7 linked regions of the Homo sapiens genome follow. The protein of the gene in region 3 purifies or fractionates together with the protein of the main gene of each other region. This does not show direct contact. Each region holds a gene or a part of one and is shown on either strand. Other genes may lie near its edges. The genes, in order: ATP1A3, DCUN1D5, COX4I2, LRRC41, KDM8, MTHFR and TRPC4AP.

Region 1 (3,500 bases), on a different chromosome or scaffold from region 3:
TTATTTATTTTTGAGATGGAGTTTCACTCTTGTCACCCAGGCTGGAGTGCAATGGCGTGATCTTGGCTCACTGCAACCTCCGCCTCCCAGGTTCAAGCGATTCTCCTGCCTCAGCCTCCTGAGTAGCTGGGATTACAGGCATGTGCCACCACGCCCCACTAATTTTGTATTTTCAGTAGAGACAGGGTTTCACCATGTTGGCCAGGCTAGTCTTGAACTCCTGACCTCAGCTGATCTGCCCGCCTTGGCCCCCCAAAGTGCTGGGATTACAGCGTGAGCCAGTGCACCCAGCCTCATTATTTTATTTTTTAACTTGATGTACTCTTCAACTTTTCATCATGAGCGTGCACTTCTTAATTTTGCAATAGGATTGTTGGCTCTTTACGGCTTGCCAGTGTTTCTCAAGATTTTTGTTTGTTTCTTTCTTTGATTGTTTGCTTTGTTAATGAGGCCCTCTGAGTCAGGCCCAAGTTGTCTTTCACAAGAATACTGTGATCCAGGCCCCCAGCCCCTTCTCCGGACCCAGGGGTCCAGATCCCAGCCCCTCCTCCCCCAGACACACGGGTCCAGGCCTCTAGCCCCTCCTCCCTCAGACTCAGGGGTCCAGGATCCCAGCCCCTCCTCCCTCAGACCCAGGAGCCCAGACCCCCAGGCCCTCCCCACCCAGACCCAGGAGCCTGGCCTTACAGTGACAGTGGCCAGCAGACCCTCTGGGACATTGGCCACGATGATGCCGATGAGGAAGATGACAGCCTCAAGCCAGGTGTATCCGAGAATGAGGGAGAGGATGAAGAAGGAGACACCCAGGAAGACAGCCACGCCGGTGATGAGCTGGATGAAGTGCTCAATCTCGATGGCGATGGGCGTCTTGCCCACCTCCAGCCCTGATGCCAGGGTGGCGATACGGCCCATGACAGTGCGGTCGCCCGTGGCCACCACCACGCCCCGAGCCGTGCCTGCAGGCCAGAGGGGTTAGGCTGAGGTGGGGTGGCTCAGGGAGGTTCTGGAGGCCTGACCCCCTGGGACACATCCCTGTGTCTGCCCCAGCTGTGTGTCTTCTCTGCACCCGCCTCACCTTCCACACAGTTGGTGGAAAAGAAGGTGATGTTCCGAGTCTCCAAGGGGTTGTCGTGAGTGCAGTCGGGAGAGCGAGTCTGGGGCTCGGATTCGCCAGTCAGGGAGGAGTTGTCCACCTGGGGGTAGGTGCAGCAGAGAGAGGGTTCAGTCCAGGGCCTGGGACAGGAGGGTATTTGTGTACAGGGCTTGGGGCTGAAGCCTGTGTGCCTGGAGATCACAGCTAGAAGCCTGGGTGCCCAGTGGGTGAGTGGTGTGTGGGAGGCCAGAGGCTGGGATCTTGAAGGTGGGGAAGGCACAGTGCTGCTGGCCAAGGTCTAGGGTCCCTAAGGATCTCCGAAAGGTGAGGGCTGGGCCTGGACTCCTGACTGTTGGGTGAGGAGGTGGCCCAGGGCCTAAACTCCTGGGTCTGAGGGAGGAGGGCCTGGGGGCCTGGACTCCTGGGTCTGAGGGAGGAGGGGTTGGGACCTGGACTCCTGAGTGTGAGGGAGGAGGGGCTGGGCCTGAGCTCCTGGGCAGCCCGAGGGAGGGTAAAGCCGGGCCCTAGGCCCAGGCCCACCTTGCAGCCGTGGGCTGAGATGATCCGCAGGTCAGCTGGCACTCGGTCTCCACCCTTGATCTCCACCAGGTCCCCGACCACCACCTCCTCAGCGTTCACCTGCATCTTCTCACCTTCCCGGATCACCAGGGCTTGCTGAGGTGGGATGGAGTAATGTCACCTCCCAGACTCCCTCTGCCTGGGGGTCACTGGGCCCGGCCCCCAGCCCATACACTAACACCCCCGTCTGGCCCCTTGCTGGGCACCCTTCACCTGGGGCACCATGTTCTTGAAGGACTCCATGATCTTGGAGCTCTTGGCCTCCTGGTAGTAGGAGAAGCAGCCAGTGATGATCACCACGGCCGCCAGCACGATGCCCAGGTACAGCTGTGGGGAGATGTGGGGATGTTGATCAGGGGCCGCCCAAGCCACTCTCCACCAGTCCCTGCTCGCCTGGAGTCTGGGAAGGGAGCTTTGTGTCAGTGGGGGTCTGTATTTGTGTGTCTGACCCTAGGTTGGTTATGAGGGTTGGTGTGTCTGAGTCTCCCCTGTTTGTGCTTGAGTCCCTCTTTCTGTAATGGTTGTGTTTGAATCTAAGGGTCTGTCGATTTTTTTTTTGAGACAGAGTCTCACTCTGTCGCCCAGGCTGGAGTGCAATGGCATGATCTTGGCTCACTGCAATCTCCGCCTCCTGGTTCAAGCGATCCTCCTGCCTCAGCCTCCTGAGTAGCTGGGACTACAGGTGCATGCCACCACACCTGGCTAATTTTGTGTATTTTTAGTAGAGATGGGGCTTCACCATGTTGGCTAGGATGGTCTTGATCTCCTGACCTTGTGATCTATCACCTTGGCCTCCCAAAGTGCTGGGATTACAGGTGTGAGCCATCTTTCCTGGCATTTTTTTTTTTTTTTTTTTTTGAGACAGGGTCTCGCTCTGCTGCCTAGGATGGAGTACAGTGGCACAATCTCAGTTCACTGTAGCCTCAACCTCCCAGATTCAAGCAATCCTCCCTCCTCAGCCTCCGGAGTAGCTAGGACTACAGGTGTGCGCCACCAGGCCCGGCTATGTTTTGTGTTTTTTTAGAGGCTGGGTCTGTCTGGGTATGTTACTCAGGCTACTGGAACTCCTGGTCTCAAGTTACCCTCCTGCCTTGGCCTCCCAAGGTGCTGGGATGACAGGCGTGAGCCACCATGCCCGACTTGTCCATCTGTTTTGTGTGTGTGTCTGTCCTCCTGCACATGTTGAGTCTGGGATGCGGCTGTCTGTCCATGTGTCTGTCTGACTGGCTGCATGCCTGACTTTACATTCTACAAGGCAGCTTCTTTGGTTCTCTGTGTGTGGATCTCTGTCTCTGTGTCTCCAGCTCTGCCTCTCTGTGAGAGCTTATGTCTAAGACTGTTTAGATTTGAACATCTGAGGACACTCTCTGTGCCTGACTCTCATGTCTCTCTGTCACCAGGTTATGCCTGCATTGCTGTGTGTGTGTGTGCGTGTCAGTGTGTGTGTGAGTTTCTCTGTCAGTGTATATCTGAGTCTGTGTCTGTGTTTCTGAATTAGGTGGCCATGTTTGAAACCACATCCTGGTGTGGCATCTGCGTTGACCCTCCGTGCACATGCGTGTGTGTGCACACACGCCTACCCAGGTGAGCAGCTCTGTGTGGCTGGTGTGTGGTCTGTGTTATGCGCATGGGATCTGAGGCTGCATCTCGAATGTGTCCCTGTGTTATGGGGATGGGCCCTGATGTATCAGCAGCGGGGTGTGCCTGGGTCTCTATGTGACACTCACTCTGGGTATCTGTCAAGCCATGACCACCTGCTGGTGTCTGTTCTCAAGGCCGCTGAGGTCACACAGCCTTGGGACAGAGCCCCGGCTCACACATCCTGCTG
Region 2 (3,998 bases), on a different chromosome or scaffold from region 3:
ACTCTTAGAGAAAAACTAAGTTCAAAATTAACAACTTCCATTCACATTAAACAAAGGTTTTTTTTTTCTTCGGTTGGCATTGTTGGAAAAAAACTGAAGTTGTTAAGTAATTGCAACTTGAAACAGTAGTCTATACATAAGAATTATCGGCTAACAAAACCCAAATACCTTTTCACTCAGTATCAAAATCCAAAAATATCAGTAAGTTATTTCCGCACATTTTAAAAGACTACAAAGAAGTTCAACCTAGTAGGTGGGAAAGTATAAATATTTATTATGATTCTATTGATTTGCATAGAAATTCTATTTGTGTGTAATAGATAAATATTTGAAAACAAACTCTTACAAAGTATATTTTGATACTTAATGAATCAATATTTCAAAATAAAATGTTATATTAAGAGTTGTTTTATCACCTAAGCTTAAATAGATTTTTAAAGATAAATGATGACTTAGGACCTAAGGGTATATTAAATTACACAGATTTAAAAAAAACAACAAAAAAACACTAAAAGTTAATAATAGTCCAAATAATTGGGACAAGGCTATTTAATCCTAGGTTCTGTTCATTCTATTTCATTTTTTTCATAAAATCATTTTCATTGTTTTTCATAAAATAACTAAAATTTGGTAAGTTCAAAATGGCCTCTAGAATTTAATGGCCTTCAGAGAAACTTTTTTCAAGGAACTCAAATAATTACCCTACCACAATGATATAGAAATGATAGAACTTCTGTAACTGAGTAAAGTAAGAGTATCATATTTAAAAATTTAAATTGATAGAGCAAAGTATCACCTGAGTTCTAATAATACTGCCTGCTCAGCTATCTTAATGTACTTAACTTAAATAATTTTAATACATTATATACTTAAGATGGCCATGATATAGTACAAAAATGAATAATAATTTGCCTGTATCTTATAAAAATGTGAGCTACTAAAGTAACCATGTCAAATTCTAATGTTGACAAACAAGAGGTGTATGTATCATCGTTCACATTAATAGCCTAATACTCCATAGACTCCTTTACCAAAACACAGTAATGAGGGAAAAAAGTCGACCAATTACAAAAAAGAAGATGCAGACTATGTAAGTCATCTACCTCACAGTTTAAGCAGATCTCTCTTTAAGGAGAGCTCTATCATTATTTCCTTCTTATAATCCTGGCTACAGTCTCCTTTCAATAGTAGCATCTGAAGTTGTCATATCAAGTGCCAACCATTGATGAAAAGGCAGCTAATATGGTTATTTTTTAAAAAAGCATTTCTCAGTCGGGCGAGGTGGCTCACTCCTGTAATCCCAGCACTTTGGGAGGCCGAGGCGGGCGGATCGCGAGGTCAGGAGTTCAAGACCAGCCTAGTCAACATAGTGAAACCCCGTCTCTACTAAAAATACAAAAAATTAGCAGGGCGTGGTGGCGGGCGCCTATAATCCCAGCTACTCAGGAGGCTGAGGCAGGAGAATCGCTTGAACCCGGGAGGCGGAGGTTGCAGTAAGCGGAGATCGCGCCACTGCACTCCAGCCTGGACAACAGTGGAAGACTCCGTCTCAGAAAAACAAAACAAAACAAAAAAACAAAAAAACCATTTCTCAAACCAAAATTGCAGTTTTTTTGTAGCATAAATTTTGCTGTGATGCCTCCATGATATGCTACAAGGGGATCAAAGAGCTACTACTATATAGTTCTGCCTTGTCTTCTTTCTTACCAGTAGGACAGAGTACAAGAGCTCACAAATTATTTAATTTATGCTGAGAGCTAACAGCGTCCTGAATGCTAGAAGACAAAAAGCATGCAGGGCCTTTCCAACTCTGCACACAGGGACTTGGCATAGGTGAGGCACTATACTTCCAGAAAATGGGGCTCCTGCAATTTAAAAGGCCTCCTGCTGGGACCTTCCGGGTTAGGCCACTCCAAATACTAAATATGGAGGCCAATTATAGCATACAAGTTTTCCTTTCTACCATTCCCAAGACAGTTGTCAAGATTCCTTATGTTCTGCTTTCTTCACACTCTACAAAGAAATTCTAGAAGTGACCCTTCTGCGGATATGTACTCACTTCTAAGTCTAGAAAAAGGCAGAGGAGCGATACGGGAGTAGGGGATCGAGGGTCGGTTGTGGGGTGGGGGTGGGGGTGGGGGGAAGCGCAATTTACATATGCATCTGTTCCCCACCCTGCAGGGCACGTAGACTCTTAACGTGGGCGGCTCTTCTAGTCTCTCCATAAACGCCAGCGTGCACACACTCGAACACGAGGTCGGGTCGGGCGCGGAGACTCGCGGTGTTCGGCACCTACAGCCTAGCTCGATCAAAGGGGCCTCACCTGTCTCCAGCCCCAGCCCGGCAGGCCGGGCCCGACTCCTTTTCCTCCAGTTGTCCAGCAAAGGAGGGAGGAGGGAAGCTTGAAGGGTGGGGGGAGATGGTACCTGGAGATTTTACACTTTTTGAGGCCTCCGTCTTCCGCTACTGCTGCTGCCACCCCAGGGGATTTTCTCTTCTTCTTCACCGGCATCTTCCGCCCTCCCCGGCAGGGTGGGCAGGGGAGCCGGGGAAGGGGGTCCCTGTCCGCTGGAAGCCCCTCAGCGCTGGCACCCAGTTCCCAGAGACAGCAGCAAGCGGAGGAGCAGAGTCGCCAGCCCGCACCGGCGCGGCCCAGCCCGGCCGCCGCCCGCTCCCAGGTATCCTCGTCGTCTTTCTCTGACCGGGACAGGGCTGGCTCCTCGCCGGTGGACACTGCGGTTCGTTCTCACCGGGAGGAGATAACGCGGACAGCGCGGCAGCTCCACCAGTCACAGCAAGCAAGAGGCTCAGCCTAACCCGGAGGCGAATCGCTGAGGCCCGGAAGTGACGCAATCGCGGAGCCGGTCCCGGGAAGGGGCGTGGTTCCGGTTAGCCTCTGCCACTCGTAGGTAGGCCAGGCAGAGCGAAGCTGTCTGACCCGTCGACTGCGGCAGTCCGCGGAATTCTTGTATCCTGTCCAGGGTATCCTGACCTTTCTCATGAAGCTTCTACCGCGCTCTGATGCTGGCAGTCACCGCCAAAAAGTGAAACTACTAATACTTTGCAGTTGACGTTAAAAACAACCTGGTAAAGTAGACCAAGTTCCACTTCTGAGCTCTTCCACACGATAACCTCACCTGAAGTGTTCCCACCCCGTAAATGCATTGTCACCCTGTGTCTTGCGTGTTTTTTTTATGGGCCTGTGATCAGCCACCCACTCCCCCTTCTCCCTACCTTTGCATATCACTTTGTCCTGTATTGAAACTTAGCTCTGCCATTATTTCCACAGAGCTCACCTCTCCGATAAGAGACAGTAGGTGACTGCGACTCAGTAGAGAGAAATTTGGGGGACAGTTCTAAGGAACCTCCCCCTAGACCCAAAACACACTGTAATCTATTCATCTCCACTTAGGTGGAAATACTGTTTTTAAATAATGGTTATTGTATGTAAAGACATAGTAGAAAGTCGTTAGTAATTCTGTTGGTAAAATAATCTCTGCAAACCAACTGTGATGGGAGAAGACTAAAAGTCTTTGAGTAATAGTTGAAGTGGTTCCTGTGAAACTACCCTCACAATGGCACCCTAATCTGGTCAATCCGAATATCATATTTCCTTAGTGTTATTAATTGGTTCAGGATGGACACATACTCAGGCCAGGCCAATGAGTGCCAATGACACAAAATTGAACCACCAGAAAGCAATTTTATTTCCTATGGATTTGAACCAGAGAAGGTATGGAGAATGAAGCCAAAACTCAGAAGAGACTAGTATCAAGCAGAAAAATAGAAAAACCAGGATGTGATTATATGATATGAGCCCAAAATCCATGATATGCCCTGGAATTTTCACTTATGTGAAGCAACAAATTTCACTATTTTGCATATTTAGTTCAATTCTCTGTTACTTAAAACCAAAAGAATGTCAAAGTATATGATCCTTCAACCCATTTAAAAATGCCTGAGGCCAAAATCAAAACAGAATCAGATAAAGTCTCTAA
Region 3 (4,027 bases):
GTCACTAGGCTCGAGTGCAGTGGCATGATCTTGGCTCACCGCAACCTCTGCCTTGCGGGTTCAAGCCATTCTCCTGCCTCAGCCTCCTGAGTAGCTGGGACCACAGGCGCCTGCCACCATGCCTGGCTAATTTTGTTTGCATTTTTAGTAGAGACGGGGTTTCGCTGTGTTAGCCAGGATGGTCTCCATCTCCTGACCTCATGATCTGCCCCCCTTGGCCTCCCAAAGTGCTGGGAATTTTTTTTTTCTTTTTCTTTTTCTTTTTTTCTGAGACAGAGTCTTGTTCTGTTGCCCAGGCTGGAGTGCAGTGGCCCGATCTCGGCTCACTGCAACAGCCGCTTCCCAGGTTCAAGTGATTCTCCTGCCTCAGCCCTCTGTGAAGCTGGGACTATAGGTGCGCGCCACCACGCCCTGCTAACTTTTTTTTTTTTTTTTTTTTTTTTTGAGATGGAGTCTAGCTCTGCTGCCCAGGCTAGAGTGCAGTAGCCGGATCTCGACTCACCGCAACCTCCGCCTCCCGGGTTCAAGCGATTCTCCTGCCTCAGCCTCCTGAGTAGCTGGGATTACAGGTGCGTGCCACCACGCCCAGCTAATTTTTGTATTCTTAGTAAAGATGGGGTTTCACCATGTTGGCTAAGCTGTCTCAAACTCCTGACCTCGTGATTTGCCTGCCTTGGCCTCCCAAAGCGCTGAGATTACAGGCATGAGCCACCGCGCCCGCCCAATTTTTCTATTTTTAATAGAGAAGGTGTTTCGCCATGCTGGGCAGGCTGGTCTCAAACTCCTGACCTCAGGTGATCCTCCCGCCTCGGCCTCCCAAAGTGCTAGGATTACAGGCGTGAGCCACTGCTGGCCTAAAAGATGCTTCTGGAGTAGGAGGCATTGGGCCTGGCTGGAAGGTTTGCGTCTGCAAAGGCCTGAAGAGAACATCCCAGGTGGGAGAAACAGCAAGGAGGGGAGGTGTGGAGGAGGCAGGGAGACCCTGTTCTTGGGACTACTGTCTGCAGAGGGTCTCCAGAGGCAGGACCCCGGTAGGGACACTGATGCAGGAGGCGCTCTGCAGTGCCTCCCCCCAATCTGTGGGCCGGGGTGCCCCCAGGGACGCAGGCTGTGCGCTCCCACGCCCTGCCGAAGCAGGACGTTCCCACGCTGGGGCGGCCCCGAGAAAGGCTGTGGGGCGGGCCGGGGGCGGGCGCCCGCACTCAGGTCCCTCCGCAGCGGGTTCTCAGTTGCTCGCTGGGCAGACCCAGGTCGCGCTCCCACTGCCGAGCCCGCGAGGTGAGTGAGTTGGGGGAGGACCCCGCCACCCAAGCCCGCGCGGGTCAGGGGCGCGGCTCGGTCTCCTGCCTTCGCCGCTGGGTCACGCCCCAGTGGTCCCTGTCTTAGAGGGTTGGGGGGCTTCTTGTAGGTTAGAGTTGAAGACTCCTGGGGAGTCTGCATATGTGTGCCATCTCTTTCCCCAAATATAGATTACATCCTCCCTCTCTTGATATGTGGAGCTCTCCCACCCACTAATCATAATCACTGGCCGGAGCCCCTCTTTTCCAGAAGTGTGGGCCGCCCCCTCCCACTTATCACCTGTAGTGTGCCCCCTCCCTCACTCTATTTGTTGGGTGCCCCTCTCTCTCCCTAGATGTGGGACTCCCCTTCTTTTCCCCAGATGTGTGTCTCCCTCCCTCTGACCCAGTTAAGTCCCCATCCTCTAAAGCCCCTCCCCACCACCATGGATGCCAAACCCTGAGTCTTCCCTGGGGGTGGGAGACTGGGCTCAGCCAGACTGGCTAAGCCCAGTCCCCACCCCAACCAGATCCAGCAGAGCAGGCCTGTGTGCACGTAGGCAGCCAATTAGGGGGGAAGGGGTGGGGGCCAGACCGTCTGTCTGTTCTGCCGGTGCAGGGGCCTCTGGCCCCTGCAGGGAAGAGAGACTCAAGAACTGCTCCCTCTCCACCTGGACCCCACCCAGCTTCCTCTGGGGAGCAAACAAGTGAGCGGGGTTCTCCAATCTGGCCAGACTGAGCTGGGGCTGGCACCAGAACCCAAGCCCTCAGCCTCAAACTCTTCAGACCCTGGCCCAAGACTTAGGCCTCCTCCCACTTCTCAGATGGTGAATTGAGGTCCCAAAAAGGGGCTTCAAAGGTCTAGGACCCCCATTGGCCCCCCGCTGGGGATATCAGACAAAATTAGAAGGGTCAAGGGCATGAGGGTGACCTTGAAACACTGGGACACCCCTACCACTACCATACCAGTGGAAAAGGATTTTTCCATCTGGCCCTGCGGTTTGGGGGCAGAGGGTGATGTGGGGGCAGAACTCATCTATACCTTCACGCCCCCAGATGCTCCCCAGAGCTGCCTGGAGCTTGGTGCTGAGGAAAGGTGGAGGTGGAAGACGAGGGATGCACAGCTCAGAAGGCACCAGTGAGACCTGGACTCCTTCCTCCCTGCCTAACTCCAGAGATAGGGGCAGGGGTCCCCTCTGCAGGCTGCCCCCTTTGCCCTTCCATGCCACCCTGGGCCTGTTCCTACCACACTTCCCATGTTCCCATGATCCCACTCCTTGGTCCAAGGTCAAGTTTCTCCAGGAAATGGAGTGCGCGGGGTGAGCAGACAGTGGTCATCTCCATTCCAAGCTTCCTTAGGAGCCAGCCCCCAAGCCTCAGGCCCCTAGACCTTTTGTTCTGAGGTGGAGGATGCTGACAGAACCTTGGACCCTGATTCCTCCTTTCCAGACCCTAGTTTCAATGCTAGTAAGAAGAAAGAGACCTAAAGTAGGAGAGACTTCAGCCAGATAGCAGAAGGGCCTTGCTGACCCATGGAGAATAACAAAGATAACATTTATTGAGCCCTTACTAGTACCCCAAGCTATTATAAACCTCCTTTTTTTTTTTTTTTGAGATAGAGTCTTGCTCTGTCGCTCAGGCTAGAGTGTTCAGTGGCGCAATGTCGGCTCACTGCAACCTCCGCCTCCTGGGTTCAAACAATTCTCCTGACTCAGCCTCCCGAGTAGCTGGGATTATAGGTGCCCACCACTGCGCCCGGCTAATTTTTGTATTTTTAGTAGAGGAGAGGTTTTACTGTCTTGGCCAGGCTGGTCTCGAACTCCTGACCTCGTGATCCACCCGCCTCAGCCTCCCAAAATGCTAGGATTACAGGCATGAGCCACCAAGCCCGGCCACCTTCTTTATTAATATAGTTAGAGATAGGGTGTCCCAAGGGCAGCCTGGACTCAGCTCCCTCCATTGTGTCTGCAGCCCGTGGTGGGGGGAAGATGTCCCCCTACACCAACTGCTATGCCCAGCGCTACTACCCCATGCCAGAAGAGCCCTTCTGCACAGAACTCAACGCTGAGGAGCAGGCCCTGAAGGAGAAGGAGAAGGGAAGCTGGACCCAGCTGACCCACGCCGAAAAGGTGGCCTGTAAGTGTCAGGGTGGGGCTGGCTGGAGAGAGTGGGTTGGGGGCTGACTTTGGAAAGAATGGCCTGTCAGGGATCAGAGGGCAGAGAGAGGCCCCCAAGACAGCCAGAAACCTCCAAACACCTGAGGGGTGAAGTTCATGCCTTTGTTCGTTTCTTTATTCACTCACCTGTTTGTGCATAGCCTGATGCTAGGCAATGCTGGGGACATGAGGTGAATCACCTGGATAGTTCCTGCCCCCATGGTGCCCCCGGTCCCGTGGGGAAAACCAATACAGACTCCAATAATTGTAATACAGAACATGTGGCTAGGGTGAGGTGTGTTCAAGGACTGTGAGATGAAATCTTGGTGGACCTCCCAGAGGAGGGCACATTCCAGCTGGCCTTTAAGGGTGAAGAGGAGGGCACTGCCAGGGAGTGGGAACTGCATGGGGAAGGGTGTCAGAGCAGGAGACTGTGGAGGGCCCTGGAATTGAGTGATGTGGGGGAGATGGGACAGAGAGAGGCAGGTGAGGCGGTTGGGGAGGAGCCCTCTGACCCTGGGAGGCTGGAGGGATGTGTGGTCCCTTGTCATGTCCACCAGAGCATCCCTGAGCTGACCCTTTGAAATTTGGAGC
Region 4 (3,500 bases), on a different chromosome or scaffold from region 3:
ATCACCAAGAGCAGGATGAAGAGGGACTGGATGGAGACTGAAGTGAAGGAGAGCAGTTAGGCTGTTGTAATAGACCAGATGAAAGGTGATGTGGACTACATTCGTGTAAAAGCATAGGGAATTAACACTTTCATTCAGCCCGTACATCGAGGACCTACTATGTACAAATAATTATACTAGATTCTTGGATGTCAAGATTCAGTTATTCTGTAAGTAAAGATAAAAAGAGACCCTGGAGCGGAAGTTTTGGTATACTCCAAGATCTTAGACTTGTTCTTTTTCTTTGAGATGGGGTCTCACTCTGTCACCCAGGCTGCAGTGCAGTGGCATGATATCAGCTCACTGCCACCTCTGTCTTCTGGGCTCAAGCAATTCTCCCATCTCAGCCTCTCGAGTAGCTGGGACCACAGGCGTGCCCCACAACACCCAGCTAATTTTTTTTTGTATTTTTGGTAGAGATGGGGTTTTGCCATGTTGCCCAGGCTAGTCTCAAACTCCTGGACTTAAGCAATGCCCCCTACCTCTGACCTCCAAAGATTACAGGAATTACAGGTGTGAGTTTGACTTGTTCTTGATTGGACAGAGATGCCATTGACAGGATAAAAATAACCACCAACATTTAGCGAGCTTATTATGGCTGGGCATTGTTTTAAACAGATTATAAGCATGATCTTCACAACAATGTCATGAGTTAATTACTGTTATCTCCATTTTATTTTATTTTATTTTATTTTATTTGTGAGACAGAGTCTTGCTCTGTCGCCCAGGCTGAAGTGCAGTGGCGCCATCTCGGCTCACTGCAGTCTCTACCTCCTGAGTTCAAGTGATTCTTGTGCCTCAGCCTCCCAAGTAGCTGGGATTACAGGCGTGCATCATTACACCTGGCTAATTTTTGTATTTTTAGTAGAGATGGGGTTTCACCATGTTGGTCAGGCTGGTCTCAAACTCCTGACCTCAAGTGATCTGCCCGCCTTGGCCTCCCAAAGTGCTGGTATTACAGGTGTGAACCATTGCATCCCACCTATTTTTTATTTTTTGAGGCAGGGTCTTGCTCTGTCATCCAGGCTGGAGTGCAGTGGTCTAAGCACAGCTCACTTCAGCCTCAACCTCCTGGGCTCCAGCCATCCTCCCACCTTAGCCTCCCAAGTAGCTGTGACCACAGGTGCACACCATCACACTCTGCTAATTTTTGTTTTGTTTTGAGATAGGGTTCTCACTGTGTCACCTGGGCTCAAGTACAGTGGTGTGATCATAGCTCACTGTAGCCTCGAACTCCTGGGCTTAAGCGATCCTCTTAGCCTCCCAAAGTGCTGGGATTACAGGTGTGAACCACTGTGCCCAGCCTCCATTTTTTTCCAGTTGAAGAAACTAAGGCTTAAAGAGGCTTAAATAATTTGTCCAAGGATTCACATTTAACTAAGTAGTTAGGATTGCACTCAGATTTGTCCTACTCTAGAGGCCAAACCCTTTAGACACTATACTATAACAGCTCTTAGAACTAGAGAAGTTGGCAAGAGCAGGTTTTGTTTTTAAGATATATTGACTTTAGAGACACGAATTGTTTCTATTCTTCATAGGAAAGTACTAGTTCAGAATATAGCAGTAGCCCAAAGGATGGTAGTGGTTAATCTGGAAAAATGGAAAAGGAATTCAGGAAAGACTTAATAAAGGGCATGTGATACTTGAAAGATGAGTAGTTGATATACTGAAAGTGGCAACGACATTCCTATTAGAACAGCATGACAAAGGACATTCCTATTGGAAAGAACAGCATGACAAAGGTACAGGGGCAGAAAGCGGCATAATATGTTAGGTAAATGAAAAAGTAGTTAAGTGTGGCTGAAATGTAGGAGGCAAAGCAGGGAGCTGATACTAGCAGGGCAGATTATGAAAGACCTTTTATCACACATATTCAGTAGGTCCTTTTCAATGCCAAATGGTTCATTTTGCTTGGGCAGAAGTGAACTGACCAGCTCCTAAATAAGCATGTCAAGCTCATTTAGCATGTCAGCTTGTTTTGTGGGATGATCTCACCCTTGCCCCTGAAATTCCAGCTTCCAACTGAGTGGCTGAAGATAAGTGGACTAGAGTTTGGAACAGATCTAGATTAGCTTCTAGAGGTTCCATTTGTCAAATGAGAAGTCTACCCTTCCATTTTCCTTTCCAGTAGAATAAATAATGCTTGGAAACCTCTTGGGTGGGAGGGGGAGGGGAGGAAAAGTAAACTTTTGTTTTGATTTTTGTAGCCCTCCCAGGCCCAATACTTCAAAGCATCCTACCTCTGCTCAATATATATTACTTGGAGAGGATTGAGGAAACTGCCCTCAAGAAAGGTGAGTATCTTTCTGTCTCTTTCTCAGTCAATGATTATGAGCAAGGCACCATAATGTTCTTCCGGTAAATATTACCCCTGATACCTGCTAGAACTTCGTGCTTTTCAAAAAGTACCTTCACACCTATTTTTCTTCCTCATTCCTCAGTGTCCTATGAAACACAAAGCCAAGTATATGATCTTTATTATACTGATAAAAGTGAGACACAGGCACACCACAATTAATAGCAAAGCCAGAACAACAACCCATATCTTGTGAATCTTAGTTTCTCTATTTTACCAAGCTTCCTCCCCTCATTAGACACATCTGTTAACAGGTAACATTTAACCCTAATGTGTCAAGCATTGTCCTAGGCACTTTACCCACAGAAACTCATTTACCCTAATCCTTTCAACAACCCTATGAAATAGCTGTTATTAACATTTTACAGATGAGGAGACTGAACCACAGAGAAATTAAGTAACTTGCGCAAAGTCACATAGCTGGAGTGTAGTTTGCTGATATTCACACCCAGGCAATCTGTCTTTAGAGCCAGTGCCCTTAATCACTCTGCCATATTGCTCCTGTGAACCCAGAAGACAACATGAAAGGTTGATGTACTTTACTCATGGTGGCCAGTAAGCAGCCAAGTGTGATATTTCTCCTTACAGGCCTCTCAACTCAGGCCATCTGGCGCCGACTCTGGGATGAACTGATGAAGACAAGGCCTTCCAGTTTGGAAGTAAGTTAAGGTATCAGGTAGAATGCTAGCCTGATTTTGCATGGTAAAAGCAGGAATAGCACACAAACACAAGCTGGGTACTGATAAAGTGCAGAGGCAATGATGGAATGGATTTGGGAGGAGGGCTCTGATGGCTTGTCACAAGGTTTTGGTCCATTTGGCATTTGTCACTGAATTGCTTGCTCACTGTATTTGCAGGGGACACAAAACAGGGAAAGTTAGTGATCACAATGGATGGCAGAGCCAGGATTCCTAGAGTTCTTGATGGTGTTGGTGCAGTGGTCAAATCTAACAAAATGAAATTTAATAGAATACACCAATACTTCAATGAGTTTTAAAAGTTCCAATTGCATGGTATCGGGATGAGGGATAAAGGAGTATGATTAGTAACAGCTTGTATAAAAAAGATTAAGGGAGTTTAGTCAACAATGTGTTGAAGCCACTTA
Region 5 (3,500 bases), on a different chromosome or scaffold from region 3:
GGGAGAACCTGCAACGTCACCCCAGACCCCCAGTGCCCACCTGGCTCGTGTTATGGAGAAGGTGCGTGTCATGAGGGTACAGAGCCCCTGACTCCTGCGGGGAATACAGCCGGATGTACTTCCTCCCCATCACCTGGGGAGAGAGACCCTGACAGTCAGCTGGTGGCCTCACTCCACTGCTGCCCCAAGCCCACTCTGGCCTCTGTGCCCTTCCACATGCTGCTCCCTGGGCCCAGCCTGCCCTTCCCCACCACACACATGCTTATGGTTCCACGTGTATGTTTTTCTTTCTTTTTTATTTTTTAGAGACAGGGTCTCACTCGGTCATCCAGGCTGGAGTGCAGTGGTACGATCATGGCTCACTGCAGTCTCGACCTCCTGGCCTCCAGAGATCCTCCTGCCCCAGCCTCCCCAGTAGTTGGGACTACAGGTATGCCCCACCACACCCAGCTGATTTTTGTATTTTTATTTTTGGTAGAGATTAGGTTTTAATATGTTGCCCAGGCTGGTCTTGAACTCCTGGCCTCAAGTGATCCTCCTGACTCGGTCTCCCAAAGTGCTGGGATTATAGGTGTGAACTACCAAACTTGGCCTAAGGTATGTTTTTCTTCCAAATACATTTTGAAAAATAACTTCATTTTTGGAGCCCACAATTATTAGGCGCTTGTCTGTGCCAGGCACTGCTTAAGTGCTTTATGTGTGTTAACTGGTTTAATCCTCTCTGAGGTGGTTTATCTTCACTCTCATTTTGCAGGTGAGGAAACTGAAGCACAGAGAGATTAAATGAGCTGCCCAAGCTCACACAGCTGAGGTGTGGCAGGGCTGCTGTCTGCGCCAGGCACGCTGGCTCCCGAAGCCCAGCTCTTAGCCCACTCCTGGGCTGCCTCTCTGGACTGGTCTGCTGGGGTAGGAGAACGTTCTCCTTTACTAAACCTCTCTTTGCCTGCGAAAACCAGGGTGGTCTTACAGCAGTAGACAGAGGTGCCTCCCCTTGCAGCAAATCCATCTGCTCCTCTGACTGGGCCTCAGGAAAAAAACCTCCCAGTGACTGAGAAAACTCCTCCCCCAACCTGCCACCTCCTATTTGGAAGCTGGTCTGGATCGCATGGGTAGCAGGCGGGGAGGGGCAGAGGCACCGGGCACCCACACCAGCACTCGCTCCCTCTCCCGAGGGCTCCCCTGTGAGGGATCTTGGGAGGAGCACATGCAGGAGGAGCCGCTTCTGGAAGCACCGACTGCAGAGGCCTTCCTGGGCCTGGGGCCGTTTGTGGGTTTGCTTTATATTTTTGTCCTCATCCCCTTCAGTGCTTCTTGTTTCTTTTTAAGAGCCCGGTGTTTAAAGGCAGAGAATGTGGCCGGCCAGGTGTCTGGGCCAGGAGGAGTTAGAAGGCCACTATTCCAGCTGCAGCTCCAACCTGCACTAGGAAGTTTTGCTGGGGATCCTGATGTAGTGGGGAGATGGTTCCCTGGGGACCAAACCAGGCATTGATGGTGATTTCCTCCTCCTCCCCATCGCCCAGGCTGCAGTAGTCGGGGATGCTGATGTCCTGCTTCAACTCCGGGATCTGTGGGCGGCAGAGCAGACATGAGATGTGGGGATCCGGCTGGGGACACCGCAGCCCGGAGGCCAACGAAGAGTCAGAAACACATACCTATATCCATTATGTGTGTGTGTGTTTGAGACAGGGTCTGGCTCTGTTTCTCAGGCTGGAGTGCAGTGGCGTGATCTCAGCTCACTGCAGCCTCTGCCTCCTGGGCTCAAGTGATCCCCCCACCTCAGCCTCCTTACTAGCTGGGACTACAAGCATGCACCACACCCGGCTAATTTTTTTTTAATTTTTGTTTTTGTAGAGACAGGGTTTCGCCATGTTGCATAGGCTGCTCTCAAAATCCTAGACTTAATTGATCCACCCGCCTCGGCCTCCCAAAGTACTGGGATTACAGGCGTGAGCCACCGCACCCGGCCCTTGCCGTCCTAGTTTTAAAAGCCAGGGTAGGCACAGAGGATTTGTTGCCATACCTGGCAGAAACAGGCTGGGCAGAGAAGAGAAACTGCCTGACGAGAAAGGCAGGTGTGGGCCTGGGTCTGTGCTCTGAGCTTTATATGATGCAGTAAGGGTGGCGCGGCTCCCCATGGCCTCTGACAGAGTTATATGCCACACATCAAGCGATCTTGGATGTTCACGGTGGGGCAGGGCCGCAGTGGCCTGGCCTCCTTTATTTATTTATTGTAATTTTTTTTTTCAAAGACAGTCTTGTTCTGTCACCCAGTCCGGAGTGCAGTGGTACCATCATGGCTCACTGTAGCCTCAACCTGCAGAGCTTAAGCGATCCTCCTGCCTCAGCCTCCCAAATTGCTGGGACCACAGGAGCATGCCACCGTGCCTGGCTAATTTTATTTTTGTAGAGATGGGGTCTTGCTATGTTGTCCAGGCTGGTCCTGCTTGGTCTCCCAAAGTGCTGGGACTACAGGTATGAGCCACTGCACATGGCCCTGGCCTCCTTTACACAAAGCCAGGGTCTCAGAGTGAAAACACACTCACTCTAAGTCCACTTCCTGTCCAGACCCTTAGCAGGCACCTCAGTTACCTCCGGGGTTGAACCCACCAGAGCAGGCCACCAGCCCACACCCCCCAGGCCACCGAGAACCCCAGGGTTCTTCACGGGACCCTGGATGGACCTGGCGGCATTTTTCAAGCTTGAGAGGCATGAAAACAGGGTTGCCAGAGGGACACAGGGCTTTTTAAGAGTCACTGCTCCGCAGCCTGAAGGCACCTGCAGGTGGACACTACCATTCCTTCGGGAGCAGTGACGGTAACTTCAGGCTGCTGGCTCAGAAACCAGTGTGTACCAGGAAAAGCTGGAATGTTCTCCCTGCAGGGAGCTTGGTCCCAGACACTGCTATTCAGACCTTTAAGAACCTGTCTCAAATCAGCTGTGCAGAAACGCAGCCGCGCCTGCTGCTTAGGACTGAAGTACAAGTTCGCAAGCTGAGGTCCCTCCCAGGGCTGTGAGGGGTTCCTCCCAAAGGTAACCCGACGCTGCTGCTTTTGACCAGAACTGGCCCTGTGGAATCTGAGCAGAAACTATGATTGGTCCCTGATGACATCATCAGGATTTCTGAAAGGTGATTGGCTGACCAGATCATGTCATCAGAATCACTGGCCGAGGATGCAGAGACCCGAAGGGAATCAGTGCTCCCGAGATGTGACTAATAACTGAGGCAGGCTTAAACTGATGGCCAAAATCTTCTAGAACACGGGGTCCCTGGGAGAAAAGTCAATAAGAGGTTCTGGGACAAGAATTTGGTAGGAGTCCCTGAGCGTCCTGTAGGTAGAGAAGGTTCTAGAACACTGTCCTTGCCACACGGCATGATAACACCTGGGCATGGGCTGCTGGGACTTCTCCAGGGTCCTCTCCACAGCATGGTAGACACTCAGCTCTGGGACCCAAGGTAAACACCCAGGCGGCCCTCCATTACCCGAAACATCTTTCAAGTC
Region 6 (3,500 bases), on a different chromosome or scaffold from region 3:
GCGATTGGAATCTGGTGACAAGTGGTTCTCCCTGGAATTCTTCCCTCCTCGAACTGCTGAGGGAGCTGTCAATCTCATCTCAAGGTAAACTCATGCAAGGTTAAGGTGGGAGGCGGGAGTGGTGGTGCCTGGGGAGCAAACTGTCAGCCCTGAGGCTGGGCTGCCCTTTAACCCGGCAGAAAAAAGCAGCCGGAGGGGGCAGGAAGGAGAAGGCAGAGTGGGTCATCTGATCTGCAACTTCTCTGTTGCCTGTAAAAGTCCCTCCACAGTGTCAAGGTATTTTAGACACACTCTTCAATGGGTTAAAAATGTTGATTCTCACACTGTATTCTTTGAGGGAACTTGGGGGCTGGATCACGAGTGCAGTTTAGGAAGTCACAAAGCAGTGAGATTGTTTTCAGCAAGTTAGAAATTTGGATTATGCTTCTTGAACTCTAGAAATGCCAACTGAATTACATTAGCACTTCATGAATTGCAGTTTTTTTTTTAAGTTTATGCCTTTTACTGTATGCACGTCTCACGTGTCACTCCCAAGTTTTTGAAGTTTAAATGCACAAGGATGTTTAAATACACCGTTGATAGCTTGTAACACAAGTACTCGTGCACATCCAGGCTTTTTTTTGAGTCTCGTTTCGGAACTTGGCCTTGGTCTGCATAACTGTAAGCTGCTGCACAGGGCTTGGGGGGTGGCATGAAAGAAAGTGAGTCTGCTGACCCTCTTTCTAACTGTTCCTACAGCGAGGCTGTGCTTGCCACAGTTAGGATTCCCCTAACTCTCAATCATGATGTCTTAACTCACCTGAGATAATAAACAGGCAAGCGCTGTGAAAAGTCTGAAGTGCTGCTCTCACACAAAATGATAGCGCTGTTGTTGTGTCTTACCTCTGTAATAGTGATTATAACGGCACCTCACATATACTGAGTATTCGGTTTGTACACCAGGCACTGTTCTAAGTTCTGTGGAACCAGCTGCCGTCATATTCTCCTAGTGTTATGGTTTTTTGTTGTTGTTGTTGCTTTTTTTTTTTTTTTTTTTTTTTTGAGACAGAGTCTCATTCTGTGGCCCAGGCTGGAGTGCAGTGGTGTGATCTTGGCTCATTGCAACCTCTGCCTCCTGGCTCAAGCAATTCTCCTGCCTCAGCCTCTCAAGTAGCTGGGATTACAGGTGCCCACCACCACACCCAGCTAATTTTTGTATTTTTAGTAGAGATGAGGTTTCACTATGTTGGCCAGGCGGTCTGGAACTCCTGACCTCAAGTGATCCACTCACTTCAGCCTCCTGAAGTGCTGGGATTACAGGCGTGAGCCACCACGCCCAGCATCCTAGTGTTATTATGAAGTGGGTACTACTATCTGCCGTGTCTTATAAATAAGGAAACAGAACTCACAGAGATTAAGTAATGTACCCAAGATCACACAGCTATAAGTAGCAAAGCCAGGATATGAACGCTGATTGGTCTGTCTCCAACCTTCATTGATGCTTCTCTAACTCCCGGGCCCCATGGGAAGGCAGTGACGGATGGTATTTCTCCTGGAACCTCTCTTCAGAAACAAACCCCCTACAGGTTTGACCGGATGGCAGCAGGTGGCCCCCTCTACATAGACGTGACCTGGCACCCAGCAGGTGACCCTGGCTCAGACAAGGAGACCTCCTCCATGATGATCGCCAGCACCGCCGTGAACTACTGTGGCCTGGAGACCATCCTGCACATGACCTGCTGCCGTCAGCGCCTGGAGGAGATCACGGGCCATCTGCACAAAGCTAAGCAGCTGGGCCTGAAGAACATCATGGCGCTGCGGGGAGGTGTGGAGCCAGCACTCCCCTACACTCTGGGTTCTGGCTTTCCCGGAGGCCACTTGGTAGCCTGAACTTGGTTCCTGAAATGGTCCTTTACTTCTTCCTGGGCCCCACGCTGAGGATCCGCAGGATCCCATCCCCGCCAGTAGTGTCAGTAGGCATTGTGGGTAGTGAGTCATCCTGGGCACCACACACAGGCAGCCACCTCTTCCACCTCTTGACCTCGACATAGGAGTTCCGTCAGGAATGCAGTCGCGGCCTGATAACCCTCTGCCTTGCCTACACCACTGCATCGATTGCTGGCTGCACCCAGCACTTGGCCCAATCACAGAGTAACAGAGTATCCAGGAGTGAGAATAGCCGGTCAGGCCTCTGGTGCCCGCTGTTGTCAGGCCACCTAAGAGTGGGAAGAGGGAGCCTGATGGGTGGGATCCTATGGCCTCGTGCTCCCTACCACAAGACCCCTTCACTTGAGATGAGTAGAAAATTCTCCCAGGAGGCAGGAGCCCCAAGGCCGTGGGATGGGAGAGGGTGGCAGGCATGCCCAGGTAGAAGTAGGGAAGGGCTCTCCAATCCTCCAGGCACGGTGAGAAGCAGCGGTGGTCTCCTATTCTCCACCGCCAGCACAGGGTCAGCATGCAGTGAATATTGAACTGGTGGGCTGCTTTTTTCCCTCCTGCTGTCTTACCAAGTGCTAGAAAGAGACGAACCAAACCTAAATAATATGAAGTTTCTGCCTTCCAGGGACTCGCAGTCCTGGGTGTCGGGGCTAGGTAGAGGGAACAGAAAGGGTCTCTGGAGGTTGGGTGAGACCCAGTGACTATGACCTCCACCAACCCTGCAGACCCAATAGGTGACCAGTGGGAAGAGGAGGAGGGAGGCTTCAACTACGCAGTGGACCTGGTGAAGCACATCCGAAGTGAGTTTGGTGACTACTTTGACATCTGTGTGGCAGGTGAGTGGCTGGATCATCCTGGTGGCGGGGATGGAGCTAGGGAGGCTGAGATGCCCAGAGAGCCTGTCGGTGTTCGGTTCAGGACACAGTGATCAGGGGCACTCATGGGTCCATGCTGGATGAAGGACATGCAGAGGTGAACTGCACCATGTCCTTGCTCCTTTTGTATCACCCACTCCCCTCCTGGGCCTGCCACCATCGACCCCTAGCTTTTTGTTCCTCTGCCTGGCTGTGCCCTTAGCCTGCTTGGCCTTATTCTTTTCTTTAAAACGAAAGAGGGGTCTGGGCGCGGTGGCTCACACCTGTAACCCCAACACTTTGGGAGGCCGAGGCAGGCAGATCACCTGAGGTCAGGAGTTTGAGACCTGCCTGGCCAACATAGCGAAACCCCGTCTCTACTAAAAATACAAAAATTAGCCAGGTGTGGTGGTGCACGGCTGTAGTCCCAGCTACTCAGGAGGCTGAGCCAGGAGAATCTCTTGGACCCAAGAGGCGGAGGTTGCAGTGAGCCGAGATGGTGCCGCTGCAGTCCAGCCTCAGTGGCAGAGCAAGACTCCATCTCAAAAAAAAAAAAAAAACAACACCCCACAAAAGAGGGATATTTACTAACAGGATTCCAGAGGGCAGGGAACCCAAGATCAGGAGATGGCCTCAGACCTCACAAGGCACTGGAAGAGGTCAAAAAGCAAGGCCCTCCCTCATTCCCTCTGGGGCCACAGGGTCCCCCATCTCCGCTTCCCACTGCAC
Region 7 (4,062 bases), 3.5 Mb from region 3:
TACTAGGGAGGCTAAGGTGGGAGGATCACTTGAGCCCAGGAAGTTGAGCTTGCCACTGCACTCCAGCCTGGGTGACAGAGCAAGATTCTGTCTCAAAAAAAAAAAAGGGTAAGCAAATAACTTATTCTGCAGGATGGGAGAGAGGAGCGGAAGGGCACAGCATGGAATAAATTAAAAAAAAAAAAAACTAAGAAAAGAAATATTTGAAAGATGAAGGTCCCCATTTTATCCTCACTATAGCTCCAGGCAGGGGGTCTCTACTTCAACTTCTGAAATAGCTCCCACACCTATATACAACCATCAGTTACCACAATAACCTGCCTTGCTTTTGTGGCTCCAGAATATTCCAGCAGCCTTGTATCTGGTGAGCTTTTTTTTTTTTTTTTTGAGATGAAGTCTCACTATGTCACCCAGGCTGGAGTGCAGTGGCGTGATCTCAGCTCACAACCTCCACCTCCCAGGTTCAAGCAATTCTCCTGCCTCAGCCTCCAGAGTAGCTGGGATTACAGGTGCTTACCACCACGCCCGGCTAATTTTTGTATTTTTAGTAGAGACGGGGCTTCGCCATGTTGGCCAGGCTGGTCTCAAACTCCTGACCTCAGATGATCCACCCGCCTCGACCTCCCAAAGCACTGGGATTACAGGAATGAGCCACTGTGCCCAGCCTCTGGTGGGCTTTTCTAGGCTCCTCCCATTCTAAGTCATTCAGCACTGGAAACAAATTAAGTTGCCTAAATTGCCTCATTTATCATGCTAAAGAACTTCTGTGGCTCCCTATTATTCTCAGAACACTGATTATCAGGATGGGTGTTTAGGAACATATCATCTAACCTCTCTGAGCCTCAGTTTCCTCATCCATATTAAGAAATGAGTCTTGAAGCATAACTCAAAAGCTTGAGGATTAAAGATAACATATGCCTTGTACCGTACTTTTTCTAAAGGTTATGTGCTCACTAAAAGTTAGTCCTCTTTCTGCCTGTCTCTACACACCCAGCTCGGTAAGGTATCTTAGCTTAAGAAGGAAAGAGCAAGTATTTCTAGGATTTTTTTTTTTTTTTGAGACAGGGTCTCACTCTGTCAATCTCCGCCTCCCAGGCTCAGGTAATCCTCCCACCTCAGCCTCCCCACAGGCACACACCACCACCATGCCCGGCTAAATTTTTGGAGACACAGGATTTTGCCGTGTTGCCTGGGCTGGTCTCGAATTCCTGGATTCAAGCGATCTGCCTGCCTCGGCCTCCCAAAGTGCTGGGATTACAGGGTCTTAAGTCAGGTCTTAAGAACACAAGGGGGAAAAAGGCTGCTCATCTATGGTTGTGTGATGGCCAGGAAAACATTTCTCACTCACAACTGCTCCTTTCGTCCACAGTCCTCCATACACACAGACCCCCTAGCCTTTATTTTATTCTATCCTTTTCGTCATTTGAGGAAGTGATATTCAAATTAAATTTAAATAAAGTTACACTGTGAAAAGTCTCACTCCCATTTTCTCCCCCTTTAGCCCAATTCCCACCTCACTCCCACCAACCACTTTATCAGTTTCTTGAGTATCCTTCAAACTTTTTATGAAAAAGCTGTCTTTAAATAAAGCTAATGTTTTACAGGTGTTAGCAAGGTTCGGGGTGGGGGAGGGTGGAAGAAGTAGTGGACTAGGTCCTATTCAACCTGGTTTACCCTAAAGCAGTGTCCTTCGCTCACTCAAAAATAACAATAATCATATGTTGGGCACCTGTTATAAGTCAGATGCTTAATATTAACTACCTTCAGCCCTTAGTATGCACCAGAAATGCACTAATGCTTTACACAATTGCCCCCTTTGATCTCCACAACAATCTTAAAAGGTAGGTTACTAATTCTCATCTTCATCTTACAAGTGAGGAAACTGAGGCACAGAAAGGTCACCTGCCCAAGCAAGAGAGAGGAGCAGGGCTTTGAACCCAGGCCTGACTCCAGAGTCCCTCTTAACCGTGACGCTCTACACTAGCAAACCAGATATAGTCTCTGCACCCGCTGGAACTCAGCCTAATGTGGGAGACGGGCGAGAAAAAGGCAGACAACAAAGAAATACGAAATTATAGACTAAGAAAGTAATGTAAACGAAACGAATTCGCGGCTGTGACAGAATAACAATGGGGACCTACTTTAGAAAGGGGAAGGAAAGAGTGTCAAGGAAAGGCCTGAGAAAATGACATTTATGAAATGCTCGGGAACCATTTGGGGGCTGCAATGATGACCCCCTCCCCCACGCCCAATACACGGGATAAACTCGAGGCCCACAGAGGCTAAAACAAACACGACAGGGTCCCCCAGACGTGTAGACGTGGCGCAAAGAAGGGAGGATCCAGAAACTGGGCCCAGGGTTCGTACACGCCATCAGTGTCCACAGCAGCCCAGCCCCGCTCGGCCCCTGACAAGGGACATCAAGCCAGCTGCTTCCCACGGCCCCGCTGCAGCTGAGAGCGTCCGGGCAGCTCACAGGGAGGCCTTCCGGCCAGCCAAAAGGGCTTTGGCCCGTCCAGCGGCGGCCTGGAAAGGCCTCTTCCCCGGCCCCCCGCCAGCTCCCGCCTGGTCCGCCCCGCCCCGCCCCTCCTGGTCCAGCCTCGTACCTGCACCGCCCGGACCAGGCCCCGGCCGGTCAGCTGGCCCTGCCGCAGCTGCAGCAGAATGTTACCAGGCCGCGGCCGGCCGCCCCATCCGCCCCAAGCCGCCACTGTGGCTGCCGACCGTCTCCCTCGGCCGGCTCCAGACCCAGCCGCTACCGGCGCCGCCGCCATGTCTCCTCGTCGGACAAACAGGAAGCAAGCGGCCTCGGGGCCGCGGAGATTTCTACGGGGCGGCGGAGGGGTCGCCGCAGCGCCCCCAGTGGGCCGTCGGCGGAGGCGCAAGCCGCGTGGCAGGGACCGTGTGCGGCGTGGAGGCTACTGGGAATTGTAGTCCTGCGCGGCAGCGGGGTAGGTGGGAAAAGAGATGTGGCCTTTCCTGCACTGCCGGTTTCTCTGGCCCCCGGGCCCAGCATTTCGGCGAAATCTCCCAAGGTCCACATTCTCCCATTTCTCTCGCCGATTTGGGCAGGATGCAGGCAGCTGGCCAAGAAATGATCCTGGGCTTCAGGTCAGGAGTCAGGCCCTCGAGTCCGCTTCCTGCCTGCTTCTCTCTACACGTGACTCACCGCGGACATCGACCAAGTCATCGCGCTCTGCCACTGCGCCTGTGTCCTCGTCAGGTCACTCCATCTATAGATTCTGGGAGCCTGATCAATCGTAGTTCCTGGGGCTTTCTCTGCGCCCGACACCAAACCATGTCTAGGGGAAAGGGAGGGTGTCTGGGATACAGTGGTGAGCAGAACGGCCTGGGATCCTTTATCACGAAATGCAGGTTACAGGGGAAGACAGCAGATCCATACACAAAGAAACGCAGTCTCAAACTGGATAAGTTGTGTAACTGGGTAGGTTGTTGTGAAATTAAATAATGGAAGGGAAAGGGATTAGTAAATTGTGACATCATATTCTCTGTCAGATGAAAACCCTGTCCTAATTTCTATCCACCAGATAGCATGTTGTCTCTAATACTCATTTTTTCAGCTAACTTCTGTGGCAGGATGGCACTGACTCCCCCCACCCAACACACACACACTTTTTCCCTTCCTAGCAGGGGGCCTGTAATAAAAATGAAAGAGGAGAGCTAAGTGTGATGTAACAGGGAATGGTGAAGATTGTGACTCATAACTAAGATGACTGTAACTTACTGCTCAAACCAGAACACTTTAAAGAATGAAAAGACACAATAAATAATTACACCGGGACGGTAGGCATAAAAGTGACTCTCCCAGGTGAACTGGCACTATGGTTACCATCCTCACACCCCATCTAAAAGGAGTAGACTCACCATCCATCTTCATAGAACTAGAAAAAAGAATCCTAAAAATCATATGGAACCAAAAAAGAGCCTGCATGTCCAAAGCAAGACTAAGCAAAAAGAATAAATCTGGAGGCATCACATTACCTGACTTCAATCTATACAATAAGGCCATAGTCACCCAAACAGCATGGTACTGGTATAAAA

The links.
Region 1: the proteins of COX4I2 (region 3) and ATP1A3 purify together in Homo sapiens (affinity purification with mass spectrometry; one large-scale study listed by BioGRID and IntAct). This does not show direct contact.
Region 2: the proteins of COX4I2 (region 3) and DCUN1D5 purify together in Homo sapiens (affinity purification with mass spectrometry; one large-scale study listed by BioGRID and IntAct). This does not show direct contact.
Region 4: the proteins of COX4I2 (region 3) and LRRC41 purify together in Homo sapiens (affinity purification with mass spectrometry; one large-scale study listed by BioGRID and IntAct). This does not show direct contact.
Region 5: the proteins of COX4I2 (region 3) and KDM8 purify together in Homo sapiens (affinity purification with mass spectrometry; one large-scale study listed by BioGRID and IntAct). This does not show direct contact.
Region 6: the proteins of COX4I2 (region 3) and MTHFR purify together in Homo sapiens (affinity purification with mass spectrometry; one large-scale study listed by BioGRID and IntAct). This does not show direct contact.
Region 7: the proteins of COX4I2 (region 3) and TRPC4AP purify together in Homo sapiens (affinity purification with mass spectrometry; one large-scale study listed by BioGRID and IntAct). This does not show direct contact.

The regions. Positions count from the first base shown.
Region 1 is NC_000019.10:41,984,231-41,987,730, forward strand, and holds part of ATP1A3 (sodium/potassium-transporting ATPase subunit alpha-3), read right to left. Parts: intron 2,000-3,500; coding exon 1,886-1,999; intron 1,769-1,885; coding exon 1,634-1,768; intron 1,194-1,633; coding exon 1,076-1,193; intron 957-1,075; coding exon 688-956; intron 1-687. UniProt on the Homo sapiens protein: This is the catalytic component of the active enzyme, which catalyzes the hydrolysis of ATP coupled with the exchange of sodium and potassium ions across the plasma membrane.
Region 2 is NC_000011.10:103,089,361-103,093,358, forward strand, and holds the start of DCUN1D5 (DCN1-like protein 5), read right to left. Parts: upstream 2,801-3,998; 5' UTR 2,513-2,800; coding exon 2,427-2,512; exon of another isoform or gene 2,324-2,426; intron 1-2,323. UniProt on the Homo sapiens protein: Contributes to the neddylation of all cullins by transferring NEDD8 from N-terminally acetylated NEDD8-conjugating E2s enzyme to different cullin C-terminal domain-RBX complexes which is necessary for the activation of cullin-RING E3 ubiquitin ligases (CRLs).
Region 3 is NC_000020.11:31,636,685-31,640,711, forward strand, and holds the start of COX4I2 (cytochrome c oxidase subunit 4 isoform 2, mitochondrial), read left to right. Parts: upstream 1-1,227; 5' UTR 1,228-1,278; intron 1,279-2,333; coding exon 2,334-2,415; intron 2,416-2,424; exon of another isoform or gene 2,425-2,499; coding exon of another isoform or gene 2,500-2,596; intron 2,597-3,248; coding exon 3,249-3,413; intron 3,414-4,027. UniProt on the Homo sapiens protein: Component of the cytochrome c oxidase, the last enzyme in the mitochondrial electron transport chain which drives oxidative phosphorylation.
Region 4 is NC_000001.11:46,297,117-46,300,616, reverse strand, and holds part of LRRC41 (leucine-rich repeat-containing protein 41), read left to right. Parts: intron 1-2,246; coding exon 2,247-2,333; intron 2,334-2,983; coding exon 2,984-3,054; intron 3,055-3,500. UniProt on the Homo sapiens protein: Probable substrate recognition component of an ECS (Elongin BC-CUL2/5-SOCS-box protein) E3 ubiquitin ligase complex which mediates the ubiquitination and subsequent proteasomal degradation of target proteins.
Region 5 is NC_000016.10:27,217,026-27,220,525, reverse strand, and holds part of KDM8 (bifunctional peptidase and arginyl-hydroxylase JMJD5), read right to left. Parts: intron 1,566-3,500; coding exon 1,416-1,565; intron 134-1,415; coding exon 41-133; intron 1-40. UniProt on the Homo sapiens protein: Bifunctional enzyme that acts both as an endopeptidase and 2-oxoglutarate-dependent monooxygenase.
Region 6 is NC_000001.11:11,799,465-11,802,964, reverse strand, and holds part of MTHFR (methylenetetrahydrofolate reductase (NADPH)), read left to right. Parts: coding exon 1-84; intron 85-1,548; exon of another isoform or gene 1,549-1,565; coding exon 1,566-1,804; intron 1,805-2,642; coding exon 2,643-2,753; intron 2,754-3,500. UniProt on the Homo sapiens protein: Catalyzes the conversion of 5,10-methylenetetrahydrofolate to 5-methyltetrahydrofolate, a cosubstrate for homocysteine remethylation to methionine. Represents a key regulatory connection between the folate and methionine cycles.
Region 7 is NC_000020.11:35,090,008-35,094,069, forward strand, and holds the start of TRPC4AP (short transient receptor potential channel 4-associated protein), read right to left. Parts: upstream 2,801-4,062; 5' UTR 2,775-2,800; coding exon 2,607-2,774; intron 1-2,606. UniProt on the Homo sapiens protein: Substrate-recognition component of a DCX (DDB1-CUL4-X-box) E3 ubiquitin-protein ligase complex required for cell cycle control.